Linked DNA regions of Homo sapiens: region 1 is linked to region 2. The links come from fine-mapping of genetic effects on gene expression. A gene starts in region 2. The other region holds a variant in brackets. All regions are shown on one strand. Distances are between the middles of the regions.

What was found. PIP is the estimated chance that this variant, and not a neighbour inherited with it, causes the effect.
Region 1: its variant is fine-mapped to the expression of HPS1 in B cells (CEDAR, PIP 0.95).

Annotation. Positions count from the first base shown.
Region 1 is chr10:98,466,795-98,469,700 of GRCh38, forward strand. All of the region lies in intron 11 of HPSE2 (heparanase 2 (inactive)), which reads right to left. Among named protein-coding and RNA genes, the nearest start is that of HPS1, 21 kb to the left of the region's middle. RefSeq lists silencers at 1,053-1,102, 1,153-1,252. The variant TC/T (reference allele first, on the strand shown) is at 1,609.
Region 2 is chr10:98,445,548-98,448,453 of GRCh38, forward strand. It overlaps HPS1 (HPS1 biogenesis of lysosomal organelles complex 3 subunit 1), which reads right to left and starts at 1,388. Exons shown (of 20, transcript NM_000195.5): 1 at 1,260-1,388. HPS1-AS1 (HPS1 antisense RNA 1) reads left to right here and starts at 774. Exons shown (of 3, transcript NR_134454.1): 1 at 774-1,210. RefSeq lists a silencer at 1,206-1,555.

The DNA of each region.
Region 1 (2,906 bases), 21 kb after region 2:
AAAGTTTTATGCCAAGCCCAGAGTGATCCTGCATAAACAGAAATCTGACCATGATATTGACCTGTCTAAATATTCAGTGGCTTCCCGCTGATCTTAGAACATTGTCTGAAGTCCCCATGCACAGGCCCTATTATCTACTTCTCCAACCGCCAAGAGGCTCACTCTAGCTCCCGCCCCTTCCAGCTCCCTTCCACCCCCACCTCCTTTCATTCTTTACGGCCATTTATCTAATCGCGGCCTAAGCACAGGGGTTTTGCACACGGTTTCCTTCTACCCGGACCTTTCTCCATATGCCCTCCTCCTCCCTTCCAGCTTCCTTCTCCTGGCTAACTCTTACTTGTCCTTCAAGTCAGGGGTGCTCCCACAGGACCCAGTACTTCTTGGATCTCAGCTCCTGTCACACAGTATTGTGACCGCTGAGCTGACTGCTTGTCAGTCTCTCCACTAGATTGGAAGCCCATGTGTCTTACTCATCCGTCACTCTTCTGTCCGCCCACTCACACAGGAGGCGTCAATAAAAGACACATTGGATATAAACACGTGGGCAAAAGAACTACTACCTAGAAGGAAAGACTCTGGACAGGAAGGCCAGAAACCCGTTTTAGTCCAGGCTTGGGACATGAAATGTGCAGGTCTAGGTATGTGACCAGCCGCTTCTGGTCTCAGTTTCTGGATTGTTAAATGATGAGAGAGAGGGAGAGAGGGAAGGGGGAGAGAAAGGAGGAGGGGCAGGGGAGAGATAAGTCCGACTGTGTGTTTGTATGGGCCTGCGCTTGAGTTATCAGCTCCCTTTCCTCCAGTGTGCTTTCCTAGGGGCCACTAGAGGTCACTCTTGTCCTACACAATGGTGCCAGGACAGTCTGACTTCGGGGTGGCACCCAGGAAGCCGGAATGCGTCCGCCTGCCTCCAAATCCCGCACTCCAGTCTCAGGAAGGCCGGGAGATGTGCCCTGCGCTTGGCCTCCCGGAGGAACAAATCACAGAATCAATCAAATCCCAACCAGAACTTCGTTGCGGTCCCGTTGGCAAGGGTCCCACCTGGAATGTGGCCTAATATTAAGGAAACGTGCGAAACGGGACTGCAATTCCTGCAGGGGTGCCGGCTTCCCGGCCAGCGTGCAGAGAACGGGGGGTCCCAGGGCAGGTGCGGGGTCTGCGGCGCCCGCCACGACTCGGCGCTGGGCTCTCCCGGGCTCCGGGTCCCCGGCTGCCCCCGGCCGCCAGTCGGGTCGGCCCCGCACCTGTTTGTGCTTTGCAGGCTCCCGGCCCCCTCGCTGAGCGAGGAAGCTGGTATGTGCAGCTGCCCTGCCCTTCTCCAGGTCAGGGGCAGGTTAGAGTCCCGAGGAGGCCCAGTCAGGTTTGAGGACAGAGGGGCTTTGCTTCCCTTTCCTGCTCGGTGGGGAGACGGTGCATCTGGGGCAGCTTGAACAGGAAGTTCGTCTGAAATTGCCTTGAGTGATGGCTACCACGCTGAGGAAGGCTGCTCAGAAGTGGCCCCTGCAGGTGGTGTCGCCTGGTACCCCATGTCCGGCTGGAGGAAAGGCTCTAAGACCGTCATGACCCTCTCTGGGGTGCTCCCACTCCTCAGGAGTCACGGGGGCAATTACT[TC/T]AAGTGTGTCCTGAACTTTTCTTCTATGTGCTTTTTGCTCTACCTGGAATCCGGTGGAATCTCTCAAAAGCCTGTTCTTCCCTCCAGGCCCTGTCAGAGGTAGCCTCCTGCTTGGGACCTCACCTGATAACAAGCTGGGAGAGCGGCACATTATCTGCATCTCCCTTTTAGCGTCCCTCTCAGGCTTATTTTATCTGTGTGCTTGGGTCATTTTGTCTGCTACTGACTTTTCATTTCTCAATTTTCAATAGTATGCGGCTCAGTGCCTTTTTGTCCATGATAGCTGTTTAGTTAATACTTGTTGAGTTCTGCTCAATCAACTGCTCTAGGAGTCATGCCTGGCTGTATGTTCCAATCTCTTCCTCTACTGTTGTTAACAGAGAGGACTGTAAGGGATAGAGAGAGAAAATGGGGAAAATAGTATCCTGTTCCCTTGCCCTTCCAACAGCCCATACCCTATTTGGAGTTCCTTGTCCCTAAGACATTTTGAGGCTGAGAAGTTTATTTGCCCTCCATCCTACCCTCTGAGGGACACGCTGAAATGGTGAGCAGTTTTGATCTAGCTTCTGTATCACTGACCAGAGAAAATACCAGGACCCTTTATACAAGGAGAGCTGGGGGTTTTGTAGGCAAGTTGTTAGGGATATAGGCTTTTCCTGGATGTAGTGTGGTTTGGGGGTCAGGATTTGATCTGTATTCTATCCAAGTCTGTGTAATAGTGATCCAATCCATAATGGACTCTACCATGTGCTTCTAATGGCTTAAAATAATTTAGCACACTTGGCAGACAAGATGAGAGCCTGACTAAGGAACCTGGATTTATACTGATATTGTTAACTCCCAGCAGATGAGGGAATCATCTGGGGGAAGTTTGGAAAGAAAATCTGATCCTGCAGCCATCTCAAAGCTCCATGTCATAGGCATATCACACTCAAACCACAGGACACAATAGGAACCAGCTATAAAAACCATGGAGACTTCAGCATGTGGTTAACTATGTCCCCCTACCACTGTAAAGAATTGGTGCCATCATCATCAACATTTACAAGTAGTGTTTAAGGGGCATTATTCATAGTTCCATCGTTCTTTTCATTGTACCAATTAAATTACAATAGACTTACTCCTTGTCTTCTAAGAAAACACTGAAATATGCAAATGTCTGAGCAGACACACCATATAAAGATATTACACAAAGAGCAGGAAGGGAGGAAAATCAGACTTAGCCTGGATTTCAAGGCCTTCTGCAGTCTGGGCTTATTATGTGTTTGTGGCCTTTCCCTTTGCCCCACAAAGCATC
Region 2 (2,906 bases):
CTGGGATCCTGCCCCTCACCTCCCATAATGGAGAATAGGAACCCGGCCAGCACAGCCCTTTGCACAGAGCAGGTGCCCACTTTTGTTCCTTCCTCCTTTGTTCCCATGAAGTGCTCTCACTTCTGCGGGTCACTCAGAGCTCCCCAAGCAGCCCCAGGGAGCTTGCTAGGAGTGACTGACGGGAGACAGCATAGCACATCCCAGGTGGTGAGGATGCAGTCCCGGTGAAGGGAGTGGGGATCCTGGGATGATACGATGAATGGAAGGAAACTAACAGGAAAGGCATCTGGGACCAGGTTCTAGTTTTGGCTTTGCCAAGTCCCATAAACCTCTCTGAGCCTCAAACTCCTGCGGAGAAACAGAGCAACATCCCCTACTCTACCTCCCTACAGGGTTAGATCATGGGAGTGACCAGGCAAGCTGCAAAGTAACCTTAGCAAACTGCGTTCTTACATAGGTGTGGGGATCATTATTCCTATTTCCCAGCTTCCCTTCTTCAAATAACAGGATTAATCAATCTGGTTCCGGAATCATTCATATTTGAATAGAGGGCAGGAACAACAGAAAACTTAATTAGGAAGTCAAGCACTGTGAGCCAGTAAGAGGCAAGTGACTACCCGCCACAGAGACTGCTGTTACGAGTTCGGCCTTTAGCAGCCGAACCCTGAGACGGGCTCCATCACCCACATGATTGGCCCGAATGCCATATTCCCGAAACAGGGGGATGCTTCCCAAAGGCTGCTGGGAAGAGAACCTCGCCGGTGTCACACTGAGACTTCCGCTTCACCTCGCTATCTTGCCCTAGAAAGGGAACTCGGAGGGGACTCACTGACGAAAGGAGCTCCAGATGGCGGGGGGCCAACCTGGGGCGACCCCCAGCGCCCACTTTCACCATCTGGACCCCAGCAAACCTCCCTGTGGCCCTTGGTCCCGTCTTCAGCAGCTCCTTCTGGGGTCCCACACCTTCGGAGCCCGGCCCTGCCCCTGAGTCTCTGGAGAGAGCGAGTCAGCAGTTCGCCGCCGCGGGGCTCCCGTTTGCCTAGCACGCCAGTTTCTGTCCAGTTTCACCCCAAATCCCCACCTCCCCCCACCCCCGAACCTCACGGCCACCCTGGGAAGGAGGCTTGACTTGTGACATCCACCCCTCTTCACGGCTGAGGAACTTTGGCCCCGAGCGAGGAAGCGACCGGCCCACGGCCACACGCCCGGAGTGGGTGAGGCTAGGAGTGGGCCCGCTCCGGGACCCCTAGGGACCCTACCTCACTTCCGGGAGGGTTGAAGGGGGGCTCCGGAGGGAGGATCGCCGCCCCCAGAGGGGACAGCCCGGAGGCCCACGTACCGGATCGCGGCGCGCACAGCGCCCCGCCTGCAGGAGCCCGGGCGCGCTTCCGGGTAGGACCGCGTGATCGCGCACGTGACCGCCCGCCCCGGGAGGGGCCGGAGCCGCCGTCGCCTTCCGCGGGTTCGAGCCCCGCCCCTGCCAGGCCTTGCCCATGCCCCATTTTACAGAAGAGGAAACGGAGGCGCAGAGAGAAGAAATAACTTGCTGAGGGTCCGAACCAGGCTCAGAACCCAGGTTTCCTGGCTCCTCAGCTGATCCCTTCTCTCCTCCCCATGCCCCGGAACCTCAGGCTTTGCCTAATGAACTGAAGTTCTGGGGCTAGAGCTGTCCTTTTGTGACTGCTCTCCCTGACCTTTGGGGAGGTGACATAGCGCACAGAAGGGCTCAGTTGCCCCCAGAGTGCCAACGCTGGAATTTATAGGAGTTCTCAATCTATTTTGGGAGTGGAGTGCACATTAGGAGTTTTGTGTTGAACCTATGTTTGCAATATTTATTTTAAAAAATCGTATGTGTATTGGGGGTGCCTGGAAGTGGAGGGGGCGCTCTGGAAGGGCCTAAATCCCCGAACAGTCCACCCCTCAGTGCCTGGGTGCCACCTGGGAGCTTTGAGCCCAGCCCAGCAAGGTATGGGTTGCAAGAACTGGCTGGGGATATAGTAGATTGAGCATCTCTTGGGGGAAAGGCAGAGGCTAAGAATCAATACTTCCACCACCTGCAGATCAAAGAGAGCATCACTCCCCCCAACCCACTACCCACCCCTTCCAGCCCACCTTAGGGCAAATTCTTCCAACTCCCCATCTACAGCACATAGCCCTGCCACACGCATCTCTTTGCTCAGCCCACCGTTGAGATCGTTCACTCACTATGCTTTCAGTGGTCGAATGAATTCCATCAAATGGATATGCTGTTATTTACTTATTCATTCCCCTACTGGTAATTTCCATTTCCCAACTGCAATGTATGAGGATTCTGATTTCTCCACATCCTCACCAATGCTTGTTATTGTTGATTTTTTTTTTTTTAAGTATAGTAACCCAGCGTGGAGTGGTGTCTTGTGATTTTATTTGCACTTCCCTGACGTTCGGCATCTTTTCATGTGCTTTTTGCCTATTTGTGTACCTTCTCTGGAGAAATGTCTATTCAAATCCTTTATCCATTTTTAAATTGTCTTTATTATTGAGTTGTAAGAGTTCTTTATATGCTCTGGTTACAAGCCCCTTATCAGATACTTGATTTGCAAAAGTTTTTTTCCCATTATGTGGCTTGTCTTTTCACTTTCTTAGTGGTATCATTTGTAGCACCAAAGTTTTACATTTTTATGTAATCCAATATAATCTATTTTTTAGTTATGTACGGGTTTTTTGTGTCAACATGTTTCTTTTTTTCAAATTTGTTTGTGGTAAAATACATATAATGTAAAATTGATCATTAAGCATTTTAAGTGTATTGTTCAGTGGTATTAACTACATTCCTAATGCTATGCAGCCATCACCACCATCCATCTCCACAGCTCTTTTCATCTTTTAAAACTGAAACTATATCCATTAAGCAATAATGCTGGCCG